4 linked regions of the Homo sapiens genome follow. The protein of the gene in region 1 purifies or fractionates together with the protein of each later gene. This does not show direct contact. Each region holds a gene or a part of one and is shown in the gene's direction. Other genes may lie near its edges.

The links.
Region 2: the proteins of RASEF (region 1) and CHM purify together in Homo sapiens (affinity purification with mass spectrometry; one large-scale study listed by BioGRID and IntAct). This does not show direct contact.
Region 3: the proteins of RASEF (region 1) and ITPR3 purify together in Homo sapiens (affinity purification with mass spectrometry; one large-scale study listed by BioGRID and IntAct). This does not show direct contact.
Region 4: the proteins of RASEF (region 1) and ITPR1 purify together in Homo sapiens (affinity purification with mass spectrometry; one large-scale study listed by BioGRID and IntAct). This does not show direct contact.

The regions. Positions count from the first base shown.
Region 1 is NC_000009.12:82,978,708-82,983,561, reverse strand, and holds the end of RASEF (ras and EF-hand domain-containing protein), read left to right. Parts: intron 1-779; coding exon 780-885; 3' UTR 886-3,972; downstream 3,973-4,854.
Region 2 is NC_000023.11:85,964,059-85,968,260, reverse strand, and holds part of CHM (rab proteins geranylgeranyltransferase component A 1), read left to right. Parts: intron 1-4,202. UniProt on the Homo sapiens protein: Substrate-binding subunit of the Rab geranylgeranyltransferase (GGTase) complex.
Region 3 is NC_000006.12:33,627,021-33,631,321, forward strand, and holds part of ITPR3 (inositol 1,4,5-trisphosphate-gated calcium channel ITPR3), read left to right. Parts: intron 1-3,017; exon of another isoform or gene 3,018-3,364; intron 3,365-4,223; exon of another isoform or gene 4,224-4,301.
Region 4 is NC_000003.12:4,670,986-4,675,286, forward strand, and holds part of ITPR1 (inositol 1,4,5-trisphosphate-gated calcium channel ITPR1), read left to right. Parts: intron 1-2,150; coding exon 2,151-2,402; intron 2,403-3,216; coding exon 3,217-3,358; intron 3,359-4,082; coding exon 4,083-4,263; intron 4,264-4,301. UniProt on the Homo sapiens protein: Inositol 1,4,5-trisphosphate-gated calcium channel that, upon inositol 1,4,5-trisphosphate binding, mediates calcium release from the endoplasmic reticulum (ER).

The DNA.
Region 1 (4,854 bases):
AGGGAGGCACTCATCTCGCTGGCAGAGATAGCCGTTCAGCTTGTCTAAGGTGAGACTTCTGGTCTTCATATTTCACAAGCATCCCCAGTGGCTACACCTGGAAGGATACTTCCTTAGGGGGTTTTCATAAGATCTTGGAGAGTAAGACATTTTTTCGTGAGTCTTGCCTCTAGCAGTTAATACTGGAAGAAGCTTACGATGACAGAAAGGGATGGTGGTAAATCCATTGTTACCTCCATGATCATGTATAATTAAAGAACGGTTATAAAATCACCATTGCTTTTGTTAAGCTCAGCAACCATTACATGAAGCTGGAAACCTGGTTCCAGAGTGTTAAGGAGCAAGCTGTGTGTATCGCAGGTTCTGCAGCATCCTGAAACCTCAGGAGAGAGTGAGGGGAGAAGGGTGTGTGTGTGTGTGTGTGTGTGTGTGTGTGTGTGTGTGTGTGTGTGTGGCCTGGTACTCAGAAAACAGGTGCTGGAGCCAGCCTGTGTGGTTTTAATCCCACTTCTGTAGTCATGTGACCTAAGGGAACTGTCTTAACCTCTTTTTGCCCTCATTTCCTCACATACAAAATGGGGCACAGCAAATTTATATGGTTCTTATGAAGATTAAGTCAAGACCTATAAAGCATTAAAACAATGTCTATAAGGCCGTGCAGACACTCAGCATGGCTATTTTTATTTCTACAGAACCATCTGTGGCTTAGTTTTTATACCTCAGTAATCCTCTCTCTCTCTCTCTCTCTCTCTCTCTGTCTCTCTCTATCTCTGTCTCAGAGAAGTGAAAAAGAGAACTGACAAGGATGACAGCAGATCCATTACCAATCTAACCGGGACCAATTCCAAAAAGTCACCACAGATGAAGAATTGTTGCAATGGCTAAATCCCAAACATCCTTGGCCTGTGAAGTCTTCATTTCCAGAATACTGAATTTGTGTGACTTATTTGGCTCTTAACAGAGTGGCACATCCTACTGACACTGTCCTATGGAGAGTTACAGTGCAGGAAACCTGAACCCAGCTCTCAGGTCCCTCTGGAACTTTGGCTCTTCTTTGTTTTGTCTCAGTGAGTGATTTGGGCCCTCTGGCTAAATAGACTAGTCATGTCCTTACAGGTCTTAAAAGATAACATGTAAATGTTTTTAAAATGGTAAAAAAAAAGAAAAGAAAAGAAATCACATGCTCAGATCAAAGCTGTAGAGGAAACTGACATAATTAGATTCATGTGGTAGCTGAATTAGGTTACCCACAAAGTCAGCATTTAAATATTTGATACTAAAGTTCTAGTAAGAAGGGATTCTCATCCTAGCTTTGCTGTTAACTGGCCTTGTGACCTTGGACATGTCACAAGCCCATGTCGGATCTGTTTCTTCATCTGTAAAATGTGCAGCTTGCCCTCAAAGGCCTTGCAGCCCTTGGCACCTCAGATTCTGTGGGAAGCAGTAGGACAGAGAGTGTGGTGGCCCACAGTTAATAATAGAACTATGGTTATTCCTGCTTTTTAATATTGGAGTATTGATTTTTCTCACTTCTGAAATAAGGACAGAATTTGATTAAAAAATGGAAACAGAAATATCTATTTTTTATGTATAAAGAAACATGTTTGAGACAAAAATAGTTGTATATAAAAGGATATTTCATAATCTCAGAATAGTTACAAAGCTCACTGCTTGAATTTGGTGTTAAAAATTCTAATGGAAACATGTAAAGCCACATACTACTGAAAGCACAATGCCCAGGAAAGTTGTCACTCTTCACTTAAGGGAGTGGTTGCCAGGGGCTGAGAAAGGGAGGATGGGGAGTGACTGCTAATAGGTATGTGGTTTCTTTGGGCGATGATGAGAATGTTCTGGAATTGGAATAGTGGTGATAGTTGTATAACTGTTTGAATGTACTAGGAACCACTGAATTGTATACTTTGAAAGGGTGAATTTTATGGTTGTGAATTATCTCACTAAAAAAAATGCTAGTACTTAGAGTGATGTAACATTTTGCAAAATTTTCATTTTCGTATCCCTGCTGATTTCAAACCTTCCCATGGTTTAGAAGCATAACCTGTAATGTAATGCAAGTCCCCTAACTCCCTGGTTGCTAACATTAACTTCCTTAAGTAATAATCAATGAAAGAAATTCTATGCATGGTTTTGAAATAATATCCTTGAAAGAGGAATCACCATTAGGAAAGGTGAGTCAGGGTCCTTTGTTTAATGTGACTAGTGGCTCATCATCACCAGTGACCTGGTTGGGCCTACTCTCCTTCCAGAACCTGCATTGCTTCCCAGACCTCCCCACTGAGATGCCTCTAAGAGCCAAAGGAGTCAACACTTGAGCCTAGGGTGGGCTACAACAAAAGATTCTAATTTACCTTGCTTCATCTAGGTCCAGGCCCCAAGTAGCTTGCTGAAGGAACTTAAAAAGTAGCTGTTATTTATTGTATTGTATAAGCTAAAAACATTTATTTTTGTTGAATCGAAACAATTCCATGTAGCAATCTTTTTTCTGTTCACGGTGTTTGTGATAGAACCTTAAATTCCGCAAGCATCAGTTTTTTGAAAAAATGGGAATTGACCGGATAGTTACAGGCAAAGATTATAAATAGCTACAACATCATTTAACTTTTATAAACATGCCTTCTCTCTATTGAAGACATCTGATATTTTTGCTGGAAAGTTGGATCTATCCTCAGTAACTCTGCCATGAATTCCTGTTTCCTGGTTCCAGAAAAAGAAAAGATTACATTTCTGATCATAAAGAATGTCTTGCATATGGGAAATTTTTCAAAATAAGGGGGGTATTATTTATGTGGCATGGGAAAACTTTTGCCATGGCTGTTTGTCTTAGTGGCATCTTTTGATGACATTGGATCAGATATATGTAGATGCTGATATATGGGACACATGTTTAGGTTTTGGTGCAGTTGCACAAAACTGTGTTAGTTTATATGTTACTGTGTTGCCTTTATTTATTCTCTCCAAAGTGTCTCTTTATATTTGTTTTACAATCTGTGAAAGAGTATACCATAATACAGAAGTATTTTCATAGTCTTTACCTCTGGATTGTCCTGTCAGTATAGCCACGTTGATGAGATTACACCAGTGCCTTTGATGGTCAACCAATCATCTTTAAGTATTTGAGCCCTGATAAATATTTTGGTAACATAATCCAAATTAGAGACTTAGAGCTCTGGTTAGCAATCATGTTTAAAGAGAAGCTTCTTAAAGCTCTGTATGCTGGGAGATTCATGATTATTACCAACGTTTTGATTTCATGAAGGTGTTCTCAAATTTAAAGCACATTTTCAGTAAGAACAAAAATATTTAATGTTTTTATCTTAGACTTGATACATTTGCATATTACTATGGAAGTTATTCACCTTGTCCCTGTTTTTCTTTAAGATATTTTAAAATCATAGTTATACTACAGTCCTTTTTTAAATGTATCCTGATACATTGTAAAATATTTTAATTTCATTGTGGAAAATAATGTTGGATAAGGAGATATTTTTCACTGTTAACTTTTAGCCCATGCATTTTCATAATTTATTTTTTTCACTTGCTGCTTTATATGACATATGTGACATTTGATTATTTAACACTTGATGTGATCTGCATAAACCCAAGTTGCACAACCCTCCTGCTGAAGATAAAATTGAGGTTAAAGATAAAGATTTATTTTCATATTTGTACAGTGATCGGCTTCAGTGATGGTTTTTGTGGGCATTTATTGTGTGTGTGTAAGAAATTTCATATGTATATATTAAGTAGGCCTCTGAGTATTGAATAATTGTTTTATGATTTTGATTTATATGGTTTACATTTTCATTGTGTGGGCCATATTTCGTTTATACTGTTTATTTCTCTTCAAACCTTAATAATTATACCATAAAGTGTAATTTTTATAGCAATGCAAATGTCTAAGGAACTACAAATATTTTCTACGTTGTAAATTCAATAAAGCTTGCTTCCTTTGGCCTTTTGAGTGTTTCCTTCAGCTTTACTGCAGATATCCCTGAAGTAATTTTAATTCTAGGATGTGTCTGCCTGAAACCATACCTCTAAAACACTTGTCTTTTCTGGCCATGGCAAGCCGAGTGTTGGGAGAGAAGAATGCACGCCTGGTATTCAGTGCTGTGGCACAGACAAGTCATCCTGGCCAACAGGGCAGCAGGTAGACCAGCTTGGGACAGGACAGCCAGGAATAGTGAGGCCTCTGTAGAAGAATGTCAGTGTTCTGGCCATCCGCACATCCTCTGAGGAGTTAGACCTTTTCTCTGATTCTCACCCCTTTCTTTCTACCCCCACATTCCCATGCACCCCAATAGGCTGAGGCTACCTGCCCTCACTCCTGTTGTACCTTTTAAAATGTGTCAACATCCTTCTTGTCCTTTTACTTATTACATAGACAGATGCCCCATGTCCTTAGCCACTTTTGTCTACTGCCGCCTCCCTTCTGTTGTATGCAGTGCTTGATACTTTAATTGTCCTAATTGTTGAATGGATGGTCAAGGAATTAACTGGTTAAATAAGGTAGGCTTTGCAAAGAGTGTCTGCCAACACCCACCACCACCAACACACACACACAGACACACATACATGATGATGGTGGACAATATAAGTACGAGGCAGTATAATATCAATGGGTATGAGCTCTGAGGCCAGCCTGCCTGGTTTGAACCTGGCCTCAGATGTAGTAGGGTAACTATGAACAAGGGACTTAACCTCTGTGTATCCCAGCTTCTTTATTTGTAAAATAAGAATGGTAACAGTACCTTTCTTGTGGAGTTGTTCTGAGAACTAAATGAGTTAATGTATGTAAAGGTCTTGAATCATGCCTGACACTTTGATTGCCCTCAA
Region 2 (4,202 bases), on another chromosome or scaffold:
TTGCAGCAATTCAAAATTGATTTCACTTTTTATATTGCTATTTTGTAGAACAACAATTTCTGAATAGTCTGATTTTTGTAATTCTTATGAATAGCCATTAAACATTTATTTTAGGAATAAACAGCTGGGTAGCAGTATAATATATACTGTGAAAATCAGAAATAAATGGCCTTAGAACAAAGTATAAACATCAAAGTAAAAGAATACAATGTCTGCAGCAAGTCGTATTGGGTAAGAGAAGGTGCAAATGGCTGAAAAATAAATGGTGAACACCTGTGCTGAATAAATTAAACACCTGTTCCTCAGTTTTTCATTTGATTCCTCTAAAAGGCTGTTACAAGGTATTCATAAGACACATTTACTTTGAGGTGTTTCTTTGTTATTACTATTAATTGGGAAGCAGTACTAGATGATATCAGAATATATACCTCCAAACTCTCAGAGTAGTATATGAATTTTGGCAATTAGTGAAAAATGCATTTACAAAAAGCAGTGTTAAGCAGTTTTTATTAAGAAAAATTATCTAAAAAATATTGTTACATTATAAATGACCTTTGGAATTAAAGCTAGCAATGTAAATGACACTAAATTTAATTTGTGAAATCAATTTTGATAGTGAACATTTTTATAAGAACTAATGATGCAGATTGTTTTCCTTTAGATAAACAGTCTGCAGCTTAAGATGGTTCGACTTAATGATTTTTCAACTTTGTAATGGTTTTATTGGGGTATTAAATGCACTTTGTCTTACTATATTGGGTTTATCAGGACGTAACCCCATCATAAGTCGAGGAGCACCTGTGTATGTTAAAATCATTGTAATATCTTAGAACTCCAAGGTTCATTTGAAGGCTTATAATGCAGCTACATTGTTTTGTAATTGGTAAATGTGTTTTTATAGTTTTCAAACACTTTTAAATTAGTAGAATTGAACTATTACTGGATTCTGAGGTTTTCTCTGAAAGGTTGAATATCTTTTTAAGAAAATGTCTTTTACCACAGTATAAAGTTTTAAATTTGGGGAAAGATAACCCTTTTAGATGAACAGAATTTTGCTTTCTGAGGATGTCAGTGGAGTTTTAGGAGCTTTTGGGTGTCTTTATATTTTCTCATTAGGTATTAACTTCAACCTTGGCAGAACTCCAAAAATACTGTGGTTGTTTTTAATGGAAAGTGAGGACAGTGTTGTGTTTTTATTGCTTGTGTTTTCCGTAGTGCTAGGAATCTCACCAAATTATAATGTTGAGAACAGTAAAACGATAGTTTATTGATGTAGAAAAAATTTCCGAAGAATAATTTCTTCTCTTCGCTTATACCTTTAATTAAGTATTTTGACTTATATCTTCCAGGTTGTCCAGTACTGGTTAATGTATTTCATTCACTCTATAGGGCCCCCATCACAGAATGTAATAGAGAACCACTGACTAGATCATTTGCTATGCTCAGTTTTCACAGTGTCATCATCATAGTCTGTAATAAGAGAAGTTGCCATATTTTGTCTTATCTGTAAAGTGTAATTAATTATCCTTTCTTAAAATTAAAGGCATGGAACTTTTGCTTTAAGAGTTAGGCATGGAACTTTTACTGAAAAACAAAAAATTAGGTGTGGAACTTTTGCTGAAAATTGTCCCCTTAGATCCCTCATGTAACACACTTTAGTTTTGTTGGTTTTCAAGATAATAAAAGTGAATAAGAGTGTGAACAATTCTGTAGAAAATATATAAATCACCTTTCATATTATGACTCTTCATTCTTAATGCTGTTAATAGCGATGCTATTATGTGCTTATATGGCCAATGGGCTTTTGTCATGTGAATGCAGAAAACCTAGGTATACAGGTTTTGAGTTGACTGTTGAGCTGTGGGCAGTTTAACAATATCTTATTTTTGAGTAGTTTTTTTTTTTTTTTTTTAGACGGAGTTTTGCTCTTGTTGCCCAGGCTGGAGTGCAATGGGACGATCTTGGCTCACTGCTACCTCCGCCTCCTGGGTTCAAGTGATTCTCTGGCCTCAGCCTCCCAAGTAGCTGAGATTACAGGTGCCCATCACCACGCCCAGCTAATTTTTGCATTTTAGTAGAGACTAGGTTTCACCATGTTGGTCAGGCTGGTCTTGAACTCTTGACCTCAAGTGATCCACCCACCTCGGCCTACCACAGTGCTGGGATTACAGGTGTAAGCCACCGTGCCCGGCCTGATTAGTATCTTATCTTTGATTAACCTTTTAGAGTTTATAAACTACTTTTCATATATGTTAGCTTCCTTATCTCACAACAGTTTCATAAAAGGTAAGGCAAATGGACTGATCCCCATTTTATATGTGGTGAATCAGAGAGATTAAATGACTTGCCAAGTGTTTCCTAAGTGATAAATCTAGGATAGAACAAAGTGGGTGTTTTCCTCACTTTGGTTTCCTAGATCTCAAAAATATTCATGTAACATTAATGATATCAATTTGTTTCTTCACTAGATTTTATTAGAATTACTATAACAGTAAATATGGCATTTTATTTCTTGACATTTGAGTGTTATTCTATCATTGTCCCTCATTTTTTTTTGTAGTGTTCATTGTGTTATTTTTAATAAGGCACTTCTTTTTTTCACTTAACTCGGACTTTCTAATTTACAATACCGTGTTTTTTTCTTGGCCTTATTTTTTGTGTTTTTTGCAACAAGTTTGTTTCGCATTTGAAACAAAAATAGTCTGCACGTATAAACCATTATTAATTAAGCATTTATTGGATACCACATCTATGGAGCAGTGTGGTAGGTGTCGTGAGGGGCACAGAAGGAGCGGTGCTAAGGTATTCCCTCAAGGAATTACAGTCTGATTTGGAAGATAAAGGATATACTGGAAAACTAAAGGACTATTAAAAAGGAATGGATAAATACATGCAAGGTAAACTGCATATGTGTATTATGGGAGCATGGTATAATAGAGTGATGAGTGTAATTGGAGTAAGGAAGACTAATTGGAAGTTAAATTTAAACTTTTTCTTAAAGTAGTTTGCTAAAGTATGTGATTATGTTTGAGAATGGAAGAATTGTGATATTATGCAGAGTGGGAAGAAAAGGACAGAAGAAACAAATGATATGAACCAAACTGTCATGATTTGACAATTAGAATTGATAAATTCGGAGTTAGAGATGCCATGTTGGAAAGTAGGTGGAGATGAAACCAGAAGATTAGTAAATAAGGAAGGTGGTTTGGTTTAGAGACAGGAAAAGGAAGATTTTTTTGTGGGGTATTTGATATAAGGAAGGGCTACTGTTAGGGCTACTGTTAGTCAACTAGCAGATTTTTACTTGCCAAGACCAATCACATACAAGGCATTCTGCCAGGTATTGAGCAGTGTGGCAACTCAGTGAAAATAGTGGGTTCTGTGGAGGATAAAATATCACAGAAATTCATAAAGCAGGCAGACTGAATGGGAGCCTGTTCTATAAATCAAGACAATGGTGGACTGAGAATGTTAGCTCCAATAATAAATTTGGAAATGGGGCTTCGACTAGAGTAATAGACATCAGTACTAAAATAGGCAGGAAATTATACAGAAAGGTCCTATTAGATACCACATTGTGATAGGCCAACTTAATCTTTTCAAGGCAGATATTTTTCCCTTTATTGAAGGTCTTCTGTCGTATCACCAAGTCAGGAATTCCTCAGTAATAATCATCTTTGATAACTACCACTGTTGAGTATTTACTATGTCCCAGGCACTGTGTCAGGCTCTTTGCATGCAGTACTTAATTTAATCTTCAAAACAACCTTGTGGTAGGTGGTATTATCTCTGTGTCATAGATGGGTAATTTAGGTGGTCTCAGAGAGGGTAATTTAGGTAATTACCTAAATTGAGGGTAATTTAGGTGGTCTCAGAGAGGATACATAAGTATCTAAGTTCGCAGAGCTTACTAGTCATATGGTCAGGGTTTGAACCAAGATCTGTTATTCTGAAGACTGTGTTCTTCATCACTGTGGTAATTTGCTTCCAATACAGTTCCCCTGTCTGTCTTAAATTCTCAAAAATGTGCATGTGACATGAAATCTTTATATCTTTCAAATCTTAATTTTGTTTCATATTTTACTGAAACATTAACAGATGAATGTTTAATGTCTGAGTCACATAAGCAAAACGTACACTGAACTTGATAAAAGGGGTAAGGGAATATATATATAAAGCCTGGTGTTTATTATTATATTTCT
Region 3 (4,301 bases), on another chromosome or scaffold:
TGGTCTTGAACTGCTGACCTCAGGTGATCTGCCTGCCTCGGCTTCCCAAAGTGCTGGGATTACAGGCATGAGCCACTGTACCCGGCTTGGCTTTCATTTAATTGTGATTTCATTGGAAGAAGATGTTAGACTTCTGTTCTGTACCTCAAGGCAGATTCTTGGTCTTAGCCTAATCCATGCAACTCATTTTTTGAAAATATATATATTTTTTCAGATTAAAAAAAAATATACATTCCATGGAGAAAATGTGAAAAACTCAAAAAAATGATCTGTAATACCACTATGGCTTACATGAACATTCCCTATGACCTTCTAGCCTTTTATATTCATAAATGAACATTTACAAACAATATCAAACTGCACGTATGGCTTTGTACCCTGTCCTTTTTTGCATATATATAGTGAGCTGTATTTTCCCATGCCAACACACCATTGTTATGGCTGCACAGCCATGGTATGCTGTACCTTAATTTATTTAAGCAACTCTAGTATTCAACATTCAGGCTCTTTGTAAATTTTTGCTGTTAAGAACAATTTGCCCTGAACATCCTAGTGCATGCATGCCTGAACACTTGTCTAGTTATAGTTATCCTCTCAGGTAATACGTTCCCAGAAATGGAGATCAAAGACAAGGTACACCTTTAACTCTTAGGCTGTCTAACTTTTTGTGTTTCTGTGGTGGTGGAGGGGTATAGGAACAGAACTTGGTGCCACAGAGGGTCAGACATGATTCATGTCATGTGTGAGTGTTGCACTAGCATGTGGGGAGTAAGACCAGCCTCTGCCCTCAAGGTTAGGTACTAGGCACTTCCCAGGCAGTGCGAGGATGTGATGGAGAAGGGATGAAGTGGAGAGGGGGTGGCGCGGGGTTGGCTCAGCCTAGAACCAGTGCCACACATCCACCTTGAGACTCCAGGGTCTCAGGCTGCATCCAACTGCTCGGCCTGAATCCTGCCGGCCTGAAAGAATCCTGCTGGAGCCACTTGATTACACTCTGCCCTGCCCTACATTCCTGACCCCATATCCCCTCCCTAGCTTGGCCCACTGGGGCGGTGGCTTGGGTTGGGGGTGGGGACACATGCTGAGTTTTAGGGTGGGGCCACACCAGCTTTCTGTTTTCAGCTTAGGGGGAGGTTTCTGGGTTTGGATGACCTCTGCACACATGCCTGGAGTCCCTGCATGTCCACCCCCAGCCCTGCTCTCTAGACTTCACCCCATGTGGGGCTGGGACACCCCTCTCTGGGAGTGAGGGCTGTGTGAGTGGAAGGGAAGAAACCTGGGGTGGGGGAAGGAGGAAAGCAGAACGCAGATCTCTACTAAGTTCATCACAGGCCTCTGAATGTGAGCTCTGAGCCCCCTGGGTATGTCAGGCTGGTCATGCGAAAGGTGCCAGTGACACCCAGCATTTGTACCTGCAGTCACAATTCCCTGCAGTCAGGACACCTGGCTTGGAGAGCTTGGGGTCACGCAGCAGGGGACTGAGAAGAGAAGTTTGTAGGGCCTTTCAGGCTAGGGACTGTGAGAGAAATCGTGGGTGCAGAAATGAGGCTGGGCGTTCACAACACAGTGAGTCCAGGGTGTGGGCTGGGGATGGAACTGGGTGGAGCCACATGCCACATTACAGAGGGATTTCCACTTGGGGAGACAGTCAGGAGAGACTCATTGCAGAGGCTTCAGTGAGGGAGTAAAATGGCCAGAGTGCTATGTTTTTTTGGTCAGCAGGTGGGCAGAGCCGGAAGGGGCTGTCAACACAAATCTCAGTCCAGGAGCAGCTGCAGGTGCTTGAGGCAGACACCTGTGCATATTTGGTTAGCAAATTGCTCTCCCCATCGCTCAGCCAGCCAGCCCGCCAGCCAGCCAGCCATTAGCCCTTCCTGCACAGTGCAGGAGAGCCCTCTTCTCCAGTATGAGTCTAGAAATAGATGATGGGGGTGATATAGGTAATGGGAGGGAAAATTAAGTCTGTGTCTCAAAGATGATGATGATGATGGCAGTGGGTAGACTTTACAGATCACTTACATTGGGTGGCCCTGGCCTTTACCTATGCTCTCACAGCCTGAGGCATAAATACAATTCAGGAAAAGTAGTGGGAAGCATTTAGAACACCAATTTGCTTACCACCTAGACTTAATCATTGTTTACAGTGGTCACATTTGATATTTGTATTTTTTGCTGAAGTATTTTATGATAAATTACATACATTGCATCTTTTTCACCTCTAAATATTTTATTATACATCCCTATGTAACTACAGTGTTGTGATCACACCAATTAATAGTTTCCTAATAGCATTCAGGGCCCAATCCATAGTCAGATGTGCCCATTGTCCTCAGTGGTGTGATCAGAGTTCACTGTAACCTCGAACTCCTGAGCTCAAGCAATCCTCCTGTCTTGGCCTCCCAAAGTGCTGGGATTACAGCCACTGGGCCCAGGTTGTCTGTGTTTGACCGACCATTGGTTTCTTTTTTTTTTTTTTTGAGATGGAGTTTCCCTCTTGTAGCCCAGGCTAGAGTGCAATGGTGCAATCTCGGCTCACTGCAGCCTCTGCCTCCCGGGTTCGAGTGATTCTCCTGCCTCAGCCTCCAGAGTAGCTGGGATTACCAGTGCCAGCCACCACGCCCAGCTAATTTTTGTATTTTTAGTAGAGACGGGTTTCACCATGTTGGGCAGGCTGGTCTTGAACTCCTAACCTCAGGTGATCTGCCCGCCTCAGCCTCCCAAAGTGTTGGGATTACAGGCGTGAGCCACCACGCCGGGCCTGACCATTGGTTTCTTTAAATCAGGATCCTAGGCCAGGCGCAGTGGCTCATGCCTGTAATCCCAGCTCTTTGGGAGGCTGAGGCAGGCGGATCACGAGGTCAAGAGATCAAGACCATCCTGGCCAACGTGGTGAAACTCCGTCTCTACTAAAAATACAAGAATTAGCTGGGCATCGTGGCACATGCCTGTGGTCCCAGCTACTCGGGAGGCTGAGGCAGGAGAATCACTTGAACCCGGGAGGTGGGGGTTGCAGTGAGCTGAGATCGTGCCACTGCACTCCAGCCTGGCAACAGAGTGAGACTCCGTCAAAAAAAAAGAAAAACCATCGAGATCCTGTCAAGGTACTCGTGTTACATTTTCTTATGCCTCTTCAGTTTCCTTTAATCTAAAACAGCGCCCCGCCCTCATCTCCTTTTCCACCATGAACACTGAGTTTCTGGCAAGGCGGGGTTGTGGTGTAGGCTGCTTCACTTTCTGGATTGATTTGTCAGGGCTGCCTTTGTTGCTTTGTTTCCCAGAGAGCTCTGCGGAGGTTTGGAGCCAGGGCGAGTTGGCCTGAGGGTCTGCCCTGCTGAGGGTCCTACAGCCTCAGTTACTCTGTCAAGTGAGAAAGACTGAGAGAGTCCAGTTCTGGGTTATGGAGAGTGGGAGACAAGCCTGGGGCTGGCAGGCCAAATATATGAGGCAAGGGCTGGCTGGCGGCCCATGGTTGCACCTTTTCTCCCTCTCTTCCCAGCTTTCCCTTTGGTCTCCTGCTCCCTGTCTTTCTTCTCCTTGGCCTTACAGATATGTCCTCCCATGCACCCAGCACCGCTGTAGAGACCCCAGGACTTGTCAGACAGCCCGCCTGACCCTGACAGCCAGAAACCCAGGCCTGTGGCAGAGGCAGGGTGGCACACTGGCCCCGACCTTTATTTCTACTGGGCCAAGTTTAGTTGTTCTTGCTATCTCCATTCTTCCTGGAGAGACTATTTGGGTTCTCTGCGTGTGCGGCTTATTGTCCTTTCTAGACTTTAAGCTTTCTGAAGGCTTTAGCTGTACTTGTTTTAAAATTCTATATATTCCATATACTGTCTGGCCCCCCGTTGGTTGGCACAGGGTGGATTCTTGGTAAAGATATGTAGAGGTAAAGGAAATGGTTGCTTTTGCAGGGATGCAGGAGTTAATTTCTTTTCTCTGATGAGCCAGGAGCCCCAACCAGTGAATCTGGGTTTCTCTCTTAACATTCCGCCTAGTAGGTGTGACTTTGGCTATCTGGAGAAAGGGCCCCCCAGGCTTCCCACCCACCACCAGCCCATCCCAGTGTTCTGACAGTGCCTGCTGTTGGAGTGGCCTCCTTGGGGCTGGCCTGCATCTGTGGAGTGGTGGCCAGTTGTAGGGTCTAGCCCTACGGGGCTTAGTGGGTGTTCTCCCCATGTGCGGAGATGAGAGATTGTAATAAATAAAAGCACAAGACAAAGAGATAAAGAAAAAACACCTGGGCCGGGGTGACCACTACCATCAAGACGCGGAGACCAGTAGTGGCCCTGAACGGCTGGGGT
Region 4 (4,301 bases), on another chromosome or scaffold:
TTTGTTGCTCGTTTGTTGATTACTTCAAGGAATCACAAGGAGTCATCTTGTAAGATTGTCTAGAAAAAAGCCAGATGTGTGTTTTAGGAGTTTGGAGTGTAAGATTTCAGTTAGTTGACATCTGGATGTGGCTGGTTCCCAAAAAGGATGAGTGCTTGCCTCAGTCCCTGGTGATAGTTTATCCTTCAGCAGCATGGCCCATAGATATGGTGGTAGGTACGTAAGAGGCAGGCTGTGGGGTCACATCCCTACCTCTCCGCTTACCAGTTTTTTGACATTGGCCAAGTTTGATTTTATGCTCTAATTTCTTTATCTGCAAAATGAAGGTGATAGTGCCAATCTCACCAAATGTTTATAGACAGAGACAGAAGATGTGTGTGTTTGTATACACATATATCTACACATTCATCCATGTATCTTTCTATAACTACACAAATATATAATAAAAAGCATGTACTTACACTAATACTTCCAATTCCATTCCAACACCATAGGATTTATTCTAGCCTTCACCTTTTCCATTTCATGACTCCCTCCAGCTGCCACGATTCCCTGTATGTTTACCCATCTGCCCGTTTCCCTGTGTGTACCTGTCTCACCTCTGCCACCCACCTCCACGGTCCCCAGTGTCTCCTTGGCTCCAGCTGTAAGACCTGCCAGTCCTGCCACCTGAAGGGAAGGGAAGGGGAAGAAAGAAAGGAAGTGAACCAATTAATACTTTTAAAAGAAAAGGAAAGGGAAGATAAAGCAAGGCTTTTATTATTTTTTAATAAAATAAATAAAACTGCAGATAAAATGCCTTTTCTTGCCTCCTGTATTCTGTTCTTTCATTCATGTGTGATGTACGCATCCTATCCACATTCTCTGTGTGCTGCATTTGTATGCATCTGTAAATCATATGTAGTATTTTATCTCTACTTAAAATTTTATATAAATGGGACTGTACTCCAAATACCATTCTAAAACTTGCCTTATTTATTCAATACGGGTACTGAAGCCATATTGAATATATCTGCGTTAATAGAGATTAATCCATTTCTGTAATTTGGACTGTTGGATGATATTCTGTTTTATTGATTTATCACATTTTCATCGCTGTTTGATATTTGATCACATGCTGCAGTTCTTCATGTCAGGAAACATCTTCATTCAAATTTTTCTGAGTATATGTATGAATTTCCATTCCACACTGGGAGGTGGGCTTGGAGGATATTCATATTTTAAGCTTTACTAAGCAATTCTAAATTGGATGTGTCAGTGTACACACCCACCAGTTGTAGACGACAAGCTTTGTTTCTTCATGTCTTTGTTAACCTTGAATATCATGATGCTTTTTAATTTTTGGTAATTTTATAAGTGTGAAATAGACTCATGTCTACACTTGCATTTCCCCGACATCTAATGAGGCTGAGAATGTCTTCAAATCATGATTATTAGAAATACATAGAGTTTTTAATTCAGAAGGCAGTATTTTGAAAGCCTGTGGCTTTCTCGTTATTTCACATTTCAAGTATGTTTACTCTTTCAGTGTTTGATGAATCTTCTCCCAAGTGAATGAGAAAGAGTGCCTTAATTGGTCAGGTTCCAGTTAACAACATTCACTTGCAATTGGATGAAGATGAAAAGTGAGGAGTCTCCTACTTTTGTAAATGAAATGTTTTTTTACACGTGTAGGAATTAGAGTGACTTACATGATATAAGATCTTTAAAATGTTATAAAATTTCTAATTAGGCTGAATATGTGTGATATCTTGAACATTTCCTACATGGTCTTTACTGTATAAAACACAGCTGAAGGGAAAGAAATAGACAACCATCTTAGGCCTTAGCATTCCCCCCGTTTATTTTAAAAAGTAAACATTAAGGACCTAGTGGAATTAGGTCGTCACATAATTGCTCCAACACAGCTGGATAGACATGTGTTCCTGTTGGCTGTCAACCCACACTCTACTGCACAGCTTGAATAGTTCTTTTATCTGCTTGGTACCAAAGCCAAAATCCTGGTATACAAGAGCAATTTAGGGGTGTTGATGTATGAGTTTAGTTGGCCAAATGTCACTCCCATGACAGTCAGGGCTGCCCAGACGACCCTTCATTCATCCTGAATGATTTCTGGAGCGTGAGCTGTGTGCCCTTGTTCCTTCCTCTAGATATCAGCTGAACCTCTTTGCGAGGATGTGTCTGGACCGCCAATACCTGGCCATCAACGAAATCTCAGGCCAGCTGGATGTCGATCTCATTCTCCGCTGCATGTCTGACGAGAACCTGCCCTATGACCTCAGGGCGTCCTTCTGCCGCCTCATGCTTCACATGCATGTGGACCGAGATCCCCAGGAACAAGTCACCCCCGTGAAATATGCCCGCCTCTGGTCGGAGATTCCCTCGGAGATCGCCATTGACGAGTGAGCCTGGCACCTGAAAACCTCACTTTACATTATTCTGTGCGGCAGTAGATAGCCCCATATGGTCTCATTAAATCTTAGAAGAAAGATGAAGTGTTGGTTTTTTCTTCAAGCTTAAAATAAAATTAAGTGGATGGCAAATATTTTTTTCCTCAAGAATGTGAAAGATGGCATGATTATGTTTTTGGTTTTTGTTTGTTTGTTTGTTTGTTTGAGATGGAGTCTCACTCTGTTGCCCAGGCTGAACTGCAGTGGCGCAATCTCGGCTCACTACAAGCTCTGCCTCCCGGGTTCGTGCCATTCTCCTTCCTCAGCCTCCCAAGTAGCTGGGACTACAGACGCCCACCACCACGCCCGGCTAATTTTTTGTATTTTTAGTAGGGACGGGGTTTCACCGTGTTAGCTAGGACGGTCTCGATCTCCTGACCTTGTGAGCCGTCCACCTCGGCCTCCCAAAGTGCTGGGATTACAGGCGTGAGCCACCGCGCCTGGCCCCGATTGTATTTTTTATATCTCATTTATCTCCTCTTTCATTCTGCAAATATTTAAGTGTGTACTATGTGCCAAGCTCAAGAAATATATCAGTGAACAAACTAGAAAGCAATCTCTATGCTAGTTGGTGGAAGACAGACAATAGGCAAGATAAACGACTCAAATATATAGTTGGTGATATATGCTAAGGAGGGAAAAAATAAAGTAGGGTCAAGGGATGCCAAGGGTTAGGGGATGTTGACTTTTGAAGCTGAGTGACCCAGGAAGACCTCTCTGGGAATAACTTGAAATTTTGTTTCCTTTCTTTCTCCTTTCTTTTCAGCTATGATAGTAGTGGAGCTTCCAAAGATGAAATTAAGGAGAGATTTGCTCAGACCATGGAGTTTGTGGAGGAGTATTTAAGAGATGTGGTTTGTCAGAGGTTCCCTTTCTCTGATAAAGAGAAGAATAAGCTTACGTTTGAGGTAACTCATGATGAAATCTTCTATGTGTATTATCTGCCTCTCAGTGGTCATTTTTCTATGGGGCAAATAGAAAATATGTGAGTAGGTTGTGATTTTGGTCATGATGCTCTGGTTTTGTAATGGAAAGGAATTCAGCTTGGTTTTGTTCCAGAATAAAATAAAACGGATACCAGTCACATGGCTTAATAGTAGTTATGGGCTTAAAAGAAATATACAAGGTGACTTGAACCACATAAAATGATAGAACATCACTTTGTGTTAAAACTGACAAGAGAGAAACACTGTGCTTGCAATCTGCCATAGCTTAATCATTTGCAGAACATAAATCCTTGTTACTTCTGAGTTAACAACGTTTCTGAGACTGCTTTTGCCTTTTAAGAGCTGTATTGCTGAGGATCGCAGAGTGTTATTATCTGTGTCCTTATTGGGAATAACTCTGCTTGCCTGGTGTTAATATTATCCTTGGGAAGCTGTGTAGAGCAAATGATGAGGTCTTTTTTTTTTTTTGATTAGTCATCAGAGCAGATCAGTAGCTTTCCATTTCTTATTTTTCCTCCTTATGAAACAAAATGAAAATTTATCAGAAAGTGCAAGGAAAATACATGCCTTCTCTTACCATAAGGAAGGTCCAAGTCTGTCATTTCTAAACTGGTCAACATCAAATGGAATTGAAGGGGATGCAGTTTATGTAATACCGTCTTCTTCTTTTATTTTAATACAATAGGTTGTAAATTTAGCTAGGAATCTCATATACTTTGGTTTCTACAACTTCTCTGACCTTCTACGATTAACTAAGATCCTTCTGGCCATATTGGACTGTGTACATGTGACAACAATCTTCCCCATTAGCAAGATGGCGAAAGGAGAAGAGAATAAAGGTAACAATGATGTGGAGAAGCTGAAGAGTGAGTATCTGAGGGTGCCCATACATCTGAGAGATGCC